2 separate regions of the Homo sapiens genome follow, and region 2 is linked to region 1. The links come from fine-mapping of genetic effects on gene expression. Tissue or cell type: spleen. Region 1 holds a variant in brackets; the other region holds the start of a gene. All regions are shown on one strand. Distances are between the middles of the regions.

The links. PIP is the estimated chance that this variant, and not a neighbour inherited with it, causes the effect.
Region 2: XIRP2 starts here. The variant in region 1 is fine-mapped to the expression of XIRP2 in spleen (GTEx, PIP above 0.99).

What each region holds. Positions count from the first base shown.
Region 1 is chr2:167,131,609-167,139,720 of GRCh38, reverse strand. It overlaps XIRP2 (xin actin binding repeat containing 2), which reads right to left. Exons shown (of 11, transcript NM_152381.6): 3 at 3,659-3,812. The region is part of intron 1 of XIRP2-AS1 (XIRP2 antisense RNA 1); the gene reads left to right. Among named protein-coding and RNA genes, the nearest start is that of XIRP2-AS1, 5.3 kb to the left of the region's middle. The variant A/G (reference allele first, on the strand shown) is at 3,945.
Region 2 is chr2:166,883,626-166,891,737 of GRCh38, reverse strand. XIRP2 (xin actin binding repeat containing 2) reads right to left here and starts at 3,258. Exons shown (of 11, transcript NM_152381.6): 1 at 3,181-3,258.

The DNA of each region.
Region 1 (8,112 bases):
TCTGATTTTAAACAAAAAATAAGATATGTAAATGACAATCACACAAATACATATACATACTACAGTATTTTAGAAACATTAATGACTGGAAGGATCCCCTCACGTAAAGAGCAGTAGAAAACTGAAAGAACAGAAGTCTCAGTTTGTTTTGTAAAACCCGTCAGAGGAGATGAATGGCCATTATAAGAATAAAGAATGAATTTAGTTTTAATGGAGCAGAATAAAAAGAGAAATACAGCAGGTAATTTCCAAGGTTTATTGCAAAAGCCTGGAAAAAGTGACTTTGAATATATATTTTATCTTTTGACATTTTACATGTTGATGACTTAGAAGATTAAAATTAAAATTATGAGTTAGAGAATAAAAGTGAAGGGCAGGCAATTGTCATATTAAAAAACTCCAAGTCATATAAATCTGATGAACATGACCCATTCAATTCTGATATTTGAAGCATTCCTTGATCCAGAGTTTTTCAGCAGGAAGAGTATATTTTTCAATTCTACATACATCTAGATCAAACACCAGTACCTAAGACTTCCAGTATTCACTTTCTAGCTTACTGGTCTTAAAATATCTAAAAGAAATTCAACAAATCATATATATATATATGCATATATATACGTACGTATATATATGCATATATATATATTTTTTGAGACAGAGTCTCGCTCTGTTGGCCAGCCTGGAGTGCAGTGGCGCCATCTCGGCTCACTGAAGCCTCCACCTGCCAGGTTCAAGTGATTCTCCTGCCTCAGCCTCCCGAGTAGCTGAGATTACAGGCACCCACTATCATGCCCAGCTAATTTTTGTATTTTTAGTAGAGATGGGGTTTCACCATGTTGGTCGGGGCTGGTCTCAAACTCCTGACCCTAGGTGATTCGCCCGCCTTGGCCTCCCAAAATGCTGGGATTACAGGCATGAGTCACTGTGCCCAGCCCAACGAATCAGATTTTTATATTAGTATAATACAATTAATCAAATCATTTACACTGATTGATTTGTTTTCTTTCATATCCCATCTATTATCAAATTACCCAAATTTGTCAAATTATGGATTTGCTATGCTTGACATTTAATGACATATGGTCTAAGTCTTCCTAGAATCATTTTAACAACTGTTAGAGTGTATCTCCAAGAAAATGTGAATGGAATGCACCAACATGCACACGGGAGCACTATGGTTTATTTGACACCAATACATAAGTGAGGAAAAGGAGCAAATAAAATAGACGTGGTGAGAGCAATTGTCCACAAACTGGGAACCTGGGAGTGTATCATCAGGCATAAAAAGAGAGGCTGGGGAAAATCATAGCACCTTTCTGTGCTGTTCTGGTTCTGCCATTGAGGATATTGGAGTGGAACCAAACTGACAGGCATTGCTAGTCCTCAGTCCTGGAATGGAGTTATCAATTCACACTGTTTACTAAATTTTAAATATGCAGGATATTAGGTAGCTGCACTTAAATTATCTTTTATAAGTGTAATTTTAAAAATCTACTGTTTTTCATATTACTACAAATAAATACTGCCTCAATATGAAACTCTTGCGGCTAGTTAAGATGTTTAATGTATAAGGCTGTCACAGTCACTCATATAATTGTATAAATTCTGAAATCTTTCAGTTATCACACTTTATTTAGAAACATGTGTTTATCTTTTTGGAATAAAATAAATATTTACAGCAAAACAGCAATATCAAAATGCTCTTGGTTTGTAGGTTTTGTCCAGTTTAACTTGCATGCTGTCCAAGTTAACTAAATTAAGTATTAAAATAGTTCATTCTTGTCCCAACAGAGATAGAAATTTGGGGCCCCATGAAAGAACGAAAAGGATCCCATAATGAAAGAATTTTGTTTCTTTTAAATGTATTGCTACGTAGGAATTAGAGTTCTTGTGCAATATACAGATAAAATGAAATTAAAATTGCTGCTATGTTCATCCACCTTGCAGATGCAATTTTCCCACCTTGTGTTTGGAAGTTTACTTCTTGTTATTGTCAATGTACCTGGAAATGTGTATTTGAGGTTACTTTTAAATTTCAGTCATATCTTGACAGTAAATAGTGGTTACACTCCAGAATACTTTTTCTAAGCTTTTAACATAAAAAGGCCTTTGAAAACCTTTGCATGGAAATCAAAGAAAACACAGATGAGGAGAAGTAAGATGTGATGAGTGGAGTTAATTATCTCATGTAACTTCGATCAGTTTGCCAAACTCATTTTTGCCTCCCTATGCTAAGCTCTCCACAGGCAAGCATCATCAGAATATAAATCATTCCTTAAAGCTTCTTTTTCCTTGGCCTCTGCTAATCTAATTCTTTTGCATTCAGCCAAGTGCACATAAAGTTTAATCACAGGCCAGAAATATGTGGAGTAAATTCCTCAAGACTGATACTAATCATATTAGGATATTAATTGGGCATACCAAAATGAATTGAAAGTGAAAAAGAGATTGAAATCTCAATTTACATGTATTTAGAAATCCATGCCCAGTCCATCATTAGCAAACTCCCCTTGACTGTTCCTACACCTGCCTCCCACTCCAAATTACATCCTTAAACCAAACGGAATCAGAATGGGCTGAACCATATGTAAATTCCCCTGAAGACCAGTCTGTTCTGTCACAGTGTACAGCTTCTCAAACTTTAATGTGCACATGAATCATTTGAGGATCCTGTTACAATGCAGATTCTGATTTAGTAGAACTGATGTGAGGCCGAAGGTTCTGCATTTCTAATAAGCCTCCAGGTGATGCTGACGTGCTGATTCGCAAACAGCACTTTCAATAACAAAGTTTTAAAGCAGAGTACCATTTGCTTTCCCAAACTGTGAACTGTAATATTCCAAAGACTTTCCACATTGCTCACATGGACTGGTGACTTGACAGTTTGCTACAAATATTCCAAACGATATCTTAAAATTTGTACTAATTATGATCTTTAACAAACACCACAAATACTACAATAGACATTATTTGGCTAAAGAGGAAAAATCCAGAATGTGCCTAATCAGAAATGATAAATAAGATCTGTATTTTCCAATAAGTTATTTATATTTTTCATGTCTGTCATTGTTGAAAATAATATTAATAGTGTGATTTCTAACATACGAGCTATTAACTTTTTAATGATATTTGTGAAGCATTAATCAAATTTATGAGGTTCTGTCTAAAATGTAACACTCTTATGTCACTTTGTATTCCAAATTCATTATGCAAGTTTAGTTTAATTGTCTGAAAAGGAGATGCTTAAGGCATCTTATTTATTTTTTTATTTTGCTACTGATAGTTACTCCTAGTTTATTCTTTTGTTACCCACAGACAGAAAGACAAGTATGTTTTCCTTTTATTTTCACAAAAGTTAAAGTCAGATTATGGTCAAGTGCATTGTTTCAAACCTCTAATACTGAAAATGCTTGTTGTACTGGTTTATAGTCAATTAAAATATATTCTATTTAGTTTTAAAAATCTAATTAAAATATAATAAGGATAGAAGCATTTATAAACACCTCTATTTTTCCTAAATTGTATTTCCTAAACTATATGCAGTCATTATTTTCCTTACTAATTTTTAAACAAACCCCTCATATATTTTATTTATTAACCACTCATGTTGTACAAGGTATGATGTCAAGAAAGCATATCAAAATGTTATGCTAACCTTCAAAGATGCGGCTGTGACCACTTTCAGGTGACATCTTGTCAAAAGATGTTTCCTTGCCTTTCTTGTCTGAATCTTTCACAGAATCCTCCAGCTGGCTCCCAGGGTGACTCTTAAAAGCTGGCGAGCACAAACTTCGCTCAATTTCCACTTCCTGTTACAAGACATTAAAGGGTTGTATGTTAAAAGCTATCAGTAGGAAACAGATGTGTTTTTTAGGGGGGTTAGAAGGCAGAAATGAAAGAGGGAGGGATTTCTGTCATGAGGGATGTTTTCAATATGCTTC[A/G]GGTAAAATGTTGATAACTTTGCCAAGAACTGCAAACATATATCTGAACGCTTAGTTTACTTTTCTGCCACTGGTTCCACTTCTGAATTAGCCTTCCTTTCATGTGTGTGTGTTTTTTTCTCTCATAAAAGAGAGAGAGTGGAAATAAGGGTCACAATACAACATAATATATGTTAATGGATGCAACTTTCTAGGCCTGAGAAATGTTGATGAGGGACTTTCAAAAAATGGCAATGTAAAAACATTATATGCTGAAGACAGAAGGAAATGAGTTTAATGTCATGTTCACCCTGTAATGATAACCTTAGCAATTATAGAGTTCCCAAATTACAAGCCCATTCAGCCAGCATACATTGAATACAGTTTTTCGATTCATAAAGATTATGAAATTACTTCTTCAGATAGTAATTTAAAGGTGAAGAGATAAAAGATTCCCAAAGAAAGGAAATATAAAGGATATTTCCAACATAGAAAGTCTAGCATTCCTTATTGTATAGGCCAATAAGGAATATACAGATTCCTTATTGTATAGGCCAAGTAATGTAATCAAATAAAACAAACCAGCCAAGTAGACTAAATATTTTGAATAAAAACATTGCAAAAAGTAAGTAAATGACTCAAGACAGTTCAAGAAGCAAAAGTCTAGTTTTAAATATGTCAAGTAATATGTTGAAAATGTTTTCAACAGCTACACATAAGTTAAAGATTTTCATACAGGAGGTCACACAGTAGTCTTCCCTGTAACTGTAGGTTTGGTTTCTGCAGTTTTATTTACCTGCGGTCCACAATATGAAATGAAAAATTCCAGAAATAAACCATTCATAAATTTTAAATTGCATGCTGATCTGAGGATCACTCCATCTGCCCAGGACGTGAATCATCAGTTTGTTTGTCCATACTACCCACCGTGATTCACTTAGAAGCTGTCTTGGTTATCAGATGGACTATCGTAGTATTGCAGTGCTTGTGGTCAAATCACTCTTATTTAACTTTTATTACAGCATAGTGTTTTAGTTAGTCTATTTTATTATGAGTTATTGTTGTGAATCTCTTACTGTGCTGAATTTAAAAGTTAAACTTTATTATAGGTATACATATATTTAGGAAAAGACAGAGTATATGTAGGGTTCGGTACTATATGTGGTTTTAGGCATCCACTAAGGGCCTTGTAACATGACCCCCATGGATAAGAAGGCACTATTGTATTTCTCTAAGCAGCCATTCAGATAATGATGTCAGTAATTGTTTTTCACTTTTGTTACCTCTTAAGTACACAGACATGAGTGAGTCAAGTTTGAGAGACAGCTAAAAGCTTCGAAACATTCTTAGAGTAGATACATTTTCTATGTCTTTGCTATGGTTAGAAAAGAAAAGCTTTTCAATTTATATATAATATATACACACATGTAAATATATATATACATACATCACATGTACATAACAAGTATATATGAAGATATATACACACACGTAAATATATATATACATATATCACATGTACATAAGTATATGTGAAGATATATATTCACACAAATATATAATATACATATACACATGAATATACATGAATATATATTCATATATATGAATATATTCACTATGTATATGTGTGTACATACATTTATTACAAATGTGTGTATATACACATATATACACATATATATAAAATCACTAGAAATATTGTTATCTGGTAATCATATCATCTTTGGATACTCCCAAAATATATGATGTATGCTGTCTTCATTAGAGTGAACTTTAACTGAAGCTAAAAACAATTGCAGGAGAAAAATAGAGAAAAAGAACTTGTCATTTTTTTCAGGGCATTCCCTTTAACATGTGTTTCCAACTATTACAAAAAATCCATATGTTCATAACTTGTAGTGAGGTATCATGCTGTTGAGACACAGTGTCAGACATGCCATTACATGTGGCACGAGTATAACATCCTTATCTCAGTTCATTCTGGTGTCCTCTCCACTGTCCTGGAAGGTGACTGCTATGACATGAACGCAGTATGTTTGCTTGTTTTGTTTCAGCAATTTAATCCAACTGCTAGCATTGGCAAAAACAAGATGAGATAAATAGAAGGTGCAGATCCCTACAAAGTTGTGATTTTTGTTAGGAAAATTTATGTTTTGGTAAAAGGTGGAATACTGAACATGGTCCATGGACTCAGACTGATGATATTAAGGAATAATTTCTGTTTCATATACCTACATGGAAATGTGATTTGATTAAATTTCAGCTGGTGATGACATTAACTTATACTATATTGGTATTCTCATTTTGGAATTCACAAGTATCAAGAGTGCATCTTGTACGGAGGCAGTAAGGAACAATCTACATGTGAATGTAGTGGACTTATTTTCAAGCCCTAGTCATCACATCAAAGTCATTCTGAGGCAAGCTCTTCAGGGCCTGGCAAGGGGTAAGGAGGCAGCTGTGTAGAGATGTAAAAGAGCTTCTTGGATGAGGCTGAATTGAGCTGTCTCCAATCAAAGCAGTGATCTGCTTTAATCTCTCGTAATCTGTTTTATACACTGTGCTTCCACAAAAGATTTACTTTGAGTAAAAATCTAGAAGCTTAAACAAATGCGTACAATACCACTTTAGAAGGAACAAATGCAGCATTTCACAATAAGAAAGTTGGATTCAAGCCCTCCCTTGGCTACTAATAAGCTTTGTGGCCTTGATTAAGTCACTTGCCATTTCTAGGACTAAGTTTTCTCAAATGTTCTTGGAAGAGATTTAGTCATTGAACACCTAATGTTCAACAACCAACTACTGGTGGTATAATTTTATTTAAAATAAAATAAAGAAATGTTTTTCACCTTTTGTGGCTTCCAGTCTAGAGAAGGAGGCAAATAGTAACGAAGCCCAGGAGTCAGTATTAAACATGCAACTCTAATGCTGAGTGTCTTAATGGGGGAATTAACTCAGTGAGAGAGAGCCCTGTATAGGGCTCTCCCAGGGAAACGACCTTCAGCTGATATTTGAAGAATGAATGGGGCTTAACTACGTGAAGAGCTTTCCAGGTGAAGACAATATGTGCAAATGTCCTGGACTGGGAGGGAGGACAGAGGATAGAGTAGGTGGGAGCAGGGAGGCTGAAAGGAAACACGTGGTGCTGGATGGCCTGCAGAGGCAGGCCGGGAGCAGATCACAAAGGCCTGCAGCACCATATTTGCTTTGTCTTAGCTCAATGGGAAGTTATTGAATGTTTTTAAGTGTGTGTGTGTGTGTGTGTGTGTGTGTGTGTGTGTGTATACACATGCACACATGACATAATCAGGTCTGCCATGTGAAAAGCGCAGTCTAACTCCAGAACAGGATTTCTAAATCTTGTCACTGTTAATATTTTGAACCAGATAATTCTTTGTTATTAGAGCCTTATTCTGTGCAGGTAGGATGTTTGGCAGCCTTCCTGGTCTCTACCCACTAGATGCCAGGAGCATTTGTCCCTAGCTCTGGAGTCATAACTATTAAAAGTGTGTTCGCACATTGCAAAATCTCATGTGGGGAGCAAAGTCACTGCTGGTAAAGAGCCACTACTCCAGACTGGGTTAGAGTAGAAGGTTACAATACATGTGGAAAGAGCAGTTAGTATAGCAGTACTGCAGGCAAGTGATGATGATCTTAAAGAAAGAATGATGATGGAGATGGCCAGAAGTGAACCAAGTTGAAAGCCATTTAGGAGATACAACTTTCAAAGCTTGGTCATGGATTGAATCGGAAGTTTGAGAAGGATAGAGAGAGGAGGGGAGAGAGAGAATGAGAGAGAGAGGGAGTGAGAATGGGAGAGAATTTAATTTTTCTCTATGGCATGCACAACAAAATGGATTGTGAAGCTATTAAATGATGTCAAAATATCAGATAAAAGCTGGTTTGAGGGAGATGATAGATCATGAGTTGGGTAGCAAGATGTCCAAAAGGCAGTTGGATGTGTAGCCCTGGAGCTTAGAGGAGAGGTCCAAACTGAACAACTAATTTAAGTCATCTGCCTTCCGTGGTAATTGAAACAACAGGCTTGAATGAACTTGCTTAGGGGGAGAGTATATAAAGTGTGATGGAGAGTGAGTCCAGAACCAAGCCTTGAAAAATGCCAACATTAAATGGATGGCAGAGGAGAAAAATCAGAAGGAAAGAACATCTTTGACAATATTGAACT
Region 2 (8,112 bases), 250 kb after region 1:
AGAATTTTTGTTGTGATTAAGAAAGATTATCAGACAACAATTTTTTTTTCAGAGAAAAAAAATCAAAAGACAACAACTGAAAGTGTTTTTCCAAATAAAGCAAGTAATTGATCTTTTCTGGGAGGGAAATTTTAATTAGTTTTGGCAGATAGTTGCTCAATATCTATCTGATAAGAATGTGAAAGAAATTAGTTAAGAGATTCAAAGAAATGGCATTTTCAATATTAAGGAAAAAACTTAACTAAAGCTTTATTATTATATATTGTCAATTACATTAACTTCTCCAGCTATGCTAGGTTTATCAGAACAATTAATTTTTCTGCCAAAAATGTAGCTAACATAGTACATTACTTAATTTCCCACTAATAGGATGCATGCATAATTCATATATGTAAAAAAGAGATAGGAACAATGCATTTGTTTATTTTTCTTTCTTTTATCTCCACATTCACATTTATTAAGTGAACCAGCTAAGGCACCTTGCTAAGACAAGTTATTAGAAGAATTTATGAAGTTGTATATTTGCAATAAGCTTATCTTACCGCCATGTCTTTTTCTGTCAAATTTCTGTCCTGTGACTCAGCTACCACAGTCACGTATCCATTAAAGGAAAACACAAATTTAACAGTTCTTTAACTTACTGATCTCATCTAACTAATGAACATCAAGCATGATGGACATACGTCGCCAGATAGCAGCTACAAGACACCAAATCTCTCATAGCCAGCTCTGGGAGCTGCATTATTTAGTAAGTCATGGAAGAGAGAAGTGCACCCTCAACCATAACCCCTGTTTGTGCTAGGTACTCAGCTTACAAGTTTACTCGTTAAAGGCTGATTGAAGCAGCTTTTGTTTCCAAATTCTATAGAAAAATAAACTCATCCTTAGTAAAAGGACCCATCTCAGAGTCCCAGAAAACTGTCTGGAGGATATGGGTAATTAGTATTTAACAAAAGAAGAAATTTGTTAAATATTTCATGGATTATCCCAAGCAGGCTGCGTACCAGACAATACCTGTTATTTAGGACAAAGCTGATGATCTGTCATATCAGCTTCTGCTACACCCACATACAGAATACATCTGTAATAAAAGAAGCATGCAAAATTTGCTCTCATGAAATTTCAAATATGAATCTCAGTGTGAATAATAAAAATAAAAACAAACTTTTAGAGTTTACTATTGAGAGCTGTCAAAGAATTATAAAACATAAATCCAGACTTCAGGGATTTACAGTCTGTTCAGATGCTCTGGTTCTCACCTTTTCTGTGCACCAACATCATCTGAGATGTCCTTAGCACTGCAGATTCTTAAGGGCCCACTCGGGGAGTTTCAGCTAGTTTCAAGGTCTGGAATTTGAACTGGGAACTGGCCTTCTTAGAAAGCACCAAGAGGTGATTCTGATGCCCGAAGCCTATGAACCCACAGTTAAAAAATAAAACTTAGGGGCCAGGCACGGTGGCTCATGCCTGTAATCCCAGCAGTTTGGGAGGCTGAGGTGGGAGGATCATGAGGTCAGAAGATTGAGACCATCCTGGCTAACACGGTGAAACCCCATCTCTACTAAAAAACAAAAAAATAGCCAGCATGGTGGCACGTGCCTGTAATACCAGCTACTCAGGAGGCTGAGGCAGGAGAATCGCTTGAACCTGGGAGGTGGACGTTGCAGTGAGCCGAGATCACACCACTATGCTCCAGTCTGGGTGACAGAGCAAGACTCTGTCTCAAATAAAATAAAATAAAATAAAACTAAAAAGTAAATAAAACTTAGCTACATCAACAGAAATATTAATGAACTGGAGAAGACACAACACCATTCATTAATTCAATACCTGCTTGAGGATTGCTTGCTATGGAGAAGAATAACAAGGAGAAGAAGGTGGAGATGGGGCTTACCCCAAAAAGGGGAAGAAATCTAGACTTATGAGAGAATGAAAATGAAGAAAATGACTACCAGCAAAAGCACAAAGGCATGGAAGGACTCATCAACATCAAGAACCCCAAGCAGGTAGGATAGACAACCAGAAAGGTCAAACAAGTGGATCTGGACAGGCTAAAGGAGCTTTTAAGGAGAAAATGCACTAGCAGGAGAGACAGAGCAAGCCAAGGTGGGCCTTGCCTGGCTGGTGATCATCTGGAAACAGTGGGAGAAGGCTGCAAGGAAGAAGGAAGTGGAGAGGAAAGCAAAATATGGTGCCACATTGTTGGGAAAATGAACATGGTTGCTCCCCTTGAATAAATAAACGCCACCTGCAGGAGGAGAGGCCAGGGACCTGGGCCAGAACCTCTGCTGTGTCTCACCTACCCTGTGCCCTGGCTCCACTGCAGCAGCCCTTCAAGGCCAGAAGCCCCATGGCCTGGGACATCCTCTTCATCTTGGCACAGAAATTGTTTAGGGAGGTGTCTGGGGGCGAGTGGGGAGAGAGTGGAGGAGGGACAGCTGTCATCTCTGAGATAGAAAGGTGCAGGAAAGCATTTCATATGTAACAATTTGAATGTTTTTTGCTGTTTTTAGAATTCAGAACCCTTGTTGGAGTGCCTAAGAAGTGGGGTAAGAAGAGCTTCCATTTGTCTGCTAGATCACATGTTAGTGGGTGGTTGTGCCAGGAGGCAGCTGCTGAGGGGTTTGCAACAACCACCCTGGTCTGTGTGCCTGAATGCTTATTCAGAATGGGGCTGTCAGCTGCAGGCTCATGCCCTTGGGTCCCTGAGGGTCATGGCTTTGTCCCTGGCGAGTCCTCTCTGACCTGACTCAATGGAACGAAGGAAGAAAGGAGAATTGCCCAGATGCTTTCTTTGGGTGATGCTGTTTTTGTTAAATTTCTTCCCCAGAAGTCCCTGACTATCTTTCAGTGTCCAAAAATATAATATATAGCCAAACTTACGTGTTTTGAGTCTGAGAGATTAACTATTTTTTCTCTGGGCACATTGCTGCCCCAGATTAAATTGTTTCTTAGTTAGAAAAACAAATGAATAACTAGAGATTCTAGCAGCAGTGTCTGTCACTAAGCGCTAGCCTGAATTTGTTGATGATGCTGTGATTCTATGCTAATTTAATGTATATTACTTAAAAGAAATAGGGAGAGAGAGGCAAAATAGTGTCCTGTCAGAAACTATCAAAGAGAAGCATGTATGTGTAGAAAAAATTATGAAAGAAGTGGTTTTTCTTAGGAAAATCTTACCTTTTTTCTACATGTCCCAGTCCCTACCAGATGTTCCCTTTTGTCTGCCTAGAGACCTGCCAGATTTCTCCAAATAATCCTGACTTCCTGGATACACCCACATAGAAACAGGTCGGGTTCTAGAAGAATTTGTCTGCTCCATGTTCCATCAGAATCAGATTATCTCATTATTTTGGAACAAGTTAATCTGCTGCAGATGAATTAATGAATGCTGCTGAGTTAGCTATTATCATTTTTTTCCTACATATTCTTAAAGGTATGTTTTAACCCAAAGACCCATAGTGACCAATGGCTCACTCTATGGCTGAGCTACACTTTAATTATCACTGTGCGTCAGGTTCCATACATATAAAAATAAACCTAATATTTAATTCAAAGTCATTTGTGAGGGGTTGGGACACCTGAGAATTTTGGATAATGATCATGAACATAGAGTCCAGATTCAAACCAAATGGCTTCAAATTCCTACTCAAACACTAGTATATGACATTAGATGCATTATTTAATATATCCAAACATTAGTTTCCTCACTTGAAAATTGGGATGATAATAGTATGTTCTAACTATACTGTTGTGAGATGAACAAAATAAATGAAATCACGCTCATAAAGAACTTAGGATAGTGCTTGGTATGAAGCAAGTGATCAGCGGATGTCAGCTTTTATTAGCAGTATTTAAGTATAGTTATTTGCAACCAAAAAGTGCTTAGCGATATCAGTTATCATCTTCTACAAATTATAGGAGACCACAGCTTCTGAGATAATTTTATTTTATTTTACATATAGTAAGCTATATACTATTTCAAATAAGTAAAGTCTTTCTCTTCGCAGACTCTAATTGCAGAGTCTAATTTGATTCTTATTTGGTCATCTAATAGCTCTTTGTTCCAAACTGGGGTTTTTATATATAAGGGGTTCAGTGATATACTACTAAAGACAATGTTGATTTTTTTGCATAAAGGAATTCAATAGCAGAAATGCATTTTAATATAATAAATTAAATCTTACAACTTTAATCAATGAATTTTCATATATAAAAATGACCATAAATTATATAAATAACTGCAGTGCTTAGCCAGTATTCAAACTGTAGGTTTCAGAAATCTTGTTTGAAAGCTTAAAATATAGGGCAGTTATGATATGGTATTTGGAGACGATACAGGGTGTGATATAAAGGTTCGACTACAAGGCTAATGTTATAAACTGGTCACATTTTGAACTGCAAATTCTGGTGACTTAATTATTTTTCCAAGAGTTTGCCAAAGTCAATAAAGAACAATTAGCTCAACATCTATGAACTTAAAAAGGACTTAGACATTCTGCTATATTAAAAAGACTAAATGCAGTACTTATCTTGGTGTGTTTCTTGTTTCTACTCTGGGAAGATTAAAAAACAGATAACTTTAGAAATTACAGACCTGTCAGCATCAGTATTTAGTTGAAAACTTACTGAAACATATCATCAAAAAATCAATTTTCAAGCACCTAGAAAATCATGAGTTACTGGGTAAAATCTCCTTGGCACTGTGAAAAATAAATCCTGTCAAATCAACTTAATTTCCTTCCACGACAGAGTGACAAAAACAGTAGACACAGAGAACTGGATAGACAAAATATATCCTGACCAAAGTCAGGCAAATTCCACATAACACAGAGAGAAAATACAGTTTGGGTGACATTTTGTCTTTATTAAGTACTCCTATTGAATAACTATGCTGAACATATCTGGAAGTGATACTCAGCTGGAATATTGAACATGTAAGGTGACTGGTTAGATATAAAGATGAGAGCATTCAAGACCAAGTTGTGGCAGGGCTGATTCTCACTATTTTAAACAAAATATTATCGGTAATTATGAGAAACCAAGTAAGAATCAGCATCATTTTGCTACTTCTGTTTTTTTAAAAAAGCAAGATCCCCAACAGAAAAGGATGTGTAGAACTGTAATGCCCACATAATGTTGCGATGGGACTACTGTTGGCACATTTGGGGTTTGGAGGCCCAGGAGAGTGAAGATGAATGGCATGAAATGAGGCATGCCTTTGAGTCAATGCTTCTGACCAGTGAGGGATCCATTTTTACTTCTGAGTCCAAATGTTTTTCCCACAAGAAAAGGTTAATGTATCCCTCTCATCTCCAAAGACTCATTTAACAAAATGACTCGTTTAACAAAATGAAAACAGCATGGACAAATAAGAGAGTGACATTTTTAAGAAACATTGGTATAGTTCCTAAGCAGAAAACCAGAAATCTGTGTGTGCATTAAAATAATAAACCACTTAGTAAAAATAATAATTGATTTTAAAGTGAATTTTGAGGAATCCCTTTAGCAGATATTCAAAGTATTTGGAAATAATGATAAATAACCTGATTTCAGTACATTATCATCCCATCCTAGAAGCTTGTAACAGTGGGAGACAGATGAAGATAGTGAGATTTCAAAGAAAGGGTAGTAGACACTATATCAACAATAAAGTATTTCCTTAGACAAGAGCTTGAAAATAATTTTCATCTCATGTGCCAACTCTAATTTTTAGTTGCCACCTGAGTAGGCTTGAGAAGTTGCACTAGGCCCACTCTAAAGAATAAAGAAGTGCACCAACCATTCAATTTGATGGGGGTGAGATATTTTGCCCATTCCCATGAAGACACAGACAGCAAGTTTATACTGGAGCCTAACTATAGTATTTATATTTGACTACATAATAAATCCATAGCAAGTAGTTGTTCTTGAATATTTGTTTATTCATTCTCAGCTAGGCTTTGGTATCTTTATTAGGACTTAAATTAAAAACTTTCTCCAGGTGTTGTTATACATATCTGATCTGGGTAAACCTACCTGGTTGCTGAAGTTCAGATTCTAATGCACTGAATGTCAACCAGGACCTTTTAGGGAATTGCGTCTTAACAACACTTATTTCTGTTGGGCTGTGCTAAATCATCTAGTCTCAACAATTATTAGATGCTTAGACTTCTCCTACAATACACATGTGGATGGGCCCTCCAGACTGGGTTGGCACATTATTGTAAGAGACTCACTTGTATTTATTAATTCATCAACTTGACACACATGAGATCCAAAATCAACTGGGAAAAAAGTCACTAGTTATTGAATTAAATCCCATGCAGTCTTTTATTCCCCAGGACCTTATATTTTGGTGTGACATTCCAGTGAATTAATTTCTGACTATAATTCATTGTTGAAAGGCTTGGCAGAGGAGTTGTGGAAGTCCAAAGCAAGGGTTTTGAATAAGCTCTCATTTGAAAAATTATATTTCTTGCATTAAACCCAAAATATCTCTGTAATTTTCCCTTTGAGCCTGTTCTAAGCCTTGAGGCCATATAAAACAAGTCTAATCCTTCTTCCACATGAACAAACAATCTTTAAATATTTGAATAAAATTCTAATGGGTCTCTTAAATTTTCTTTTTCTATTCAAGCAAACCATCCACAAATGTACCCTAATATAAATGCTTTTAATTCTTCTAGTCATCATAGTTCTAACCTGTTCACCATCAACAACCAGAATTAGTCATGTATTCTCTCAGCACTTTATAAATTGCTTATTTCTATTCCTTTAATAGACTGAGAAATGTTAAAAGACAGTTAATATTTTGATTCATTTGTGATCTCCTGCATATTTTACATGGGGCCAAAATCAATTGACTTTAACTGAACATAAGGGAAAAGGTTTTAAAAAAATTTGGAAAATAAACATTTGATACCAGATTGTTTGGGAGTATACAGCAATTGCAGTGGCAAGTACAGATTCTTAGGAAAATAAGATATATTGAAGTCCTATTGAAGTCTTTATTGCTAATGCCATGTTTTTACTAGGATTGCTTTCTAACTAACTGTTAAGTAGATTGCAATAGCCCAGAGTGATATTCTGAATATTTAACAACTAGTATCAGATGGACATAATCCTAGTATTAAAGCAGCATCCTGGAAGCATTGACTATATCTTGGGAAAGTTTCGGAGTCACAAGGAGGACATTTACAAAGAATTTCAAAATTATTTTTGATATTTTAAAAATCAGTAAGGCAATCACGGTGACTAATGGCTGAGTAACAGCCTTTGAAACAGAATTTTAGCATTAGTGATTTTAATGGAAGCCCTGAATCAAAATCTCACATTGTCCAGGTCATAAAGGGAAAATGACCCGTTCAAGTTCACAGGATTAGTGACAGAGATAGTATTCAAAATGGCTAAGAATGCCTTAATATTTTCTGCAGCTTGACTATACTTTACAGACTTCTTACTATTGACCCCTGACTCCCTTAGAATATCTACTTTAGAAAACTTTCGATTGCAAATTTTTTGACTCTCTGAATCTTCTCCCAGCTTCTTGCCAATTTTATAACCCAGAAAAGTTTTCTCAAGGACCTACCCTGATGCAGTCATTACACACTGCAGGCTTGTGTCAAAACATCACATGTATCCCATAAATAACATACAACTATTATGTAGTCATATTAAAATATTTTTTAAAAAAATCAAGAAAGATAGCATTCCCATCTCCCAGTCTCTATGGGAAGGTAAGAGCCCAACTTCAGTAAGTGTCAATTAGTAAACACAGATGGCCTAGTCACACTGACCACCTCCCCACTAATGTCCTCCAGTACTTTTCCACCAGTTCACCCCACTATAAAACTCTACCAACTTTTGTTTCAGCAGAGATGCTTTCAATCTCTCTTCCCTAAAGTGATGTCTTAAATAAATCCTTTCTTGCCTGTTCAACTTGTCGAGTGCAATTTTTCTCTGATAGAACCCCCTACATCTTCAAACTCTTGAGCTTTTTTTTTTTTTTTTTTTTTTTTTACAGAGTCTCATTCTGTCACTCAGGCTAGAGTGCAGTGGCGTGACCTCAGCTCACTAAAACCTCTGCCTTCCAGGTTCAAGCGATTCTTATGCCTCAGCCTCCGCTGTAGC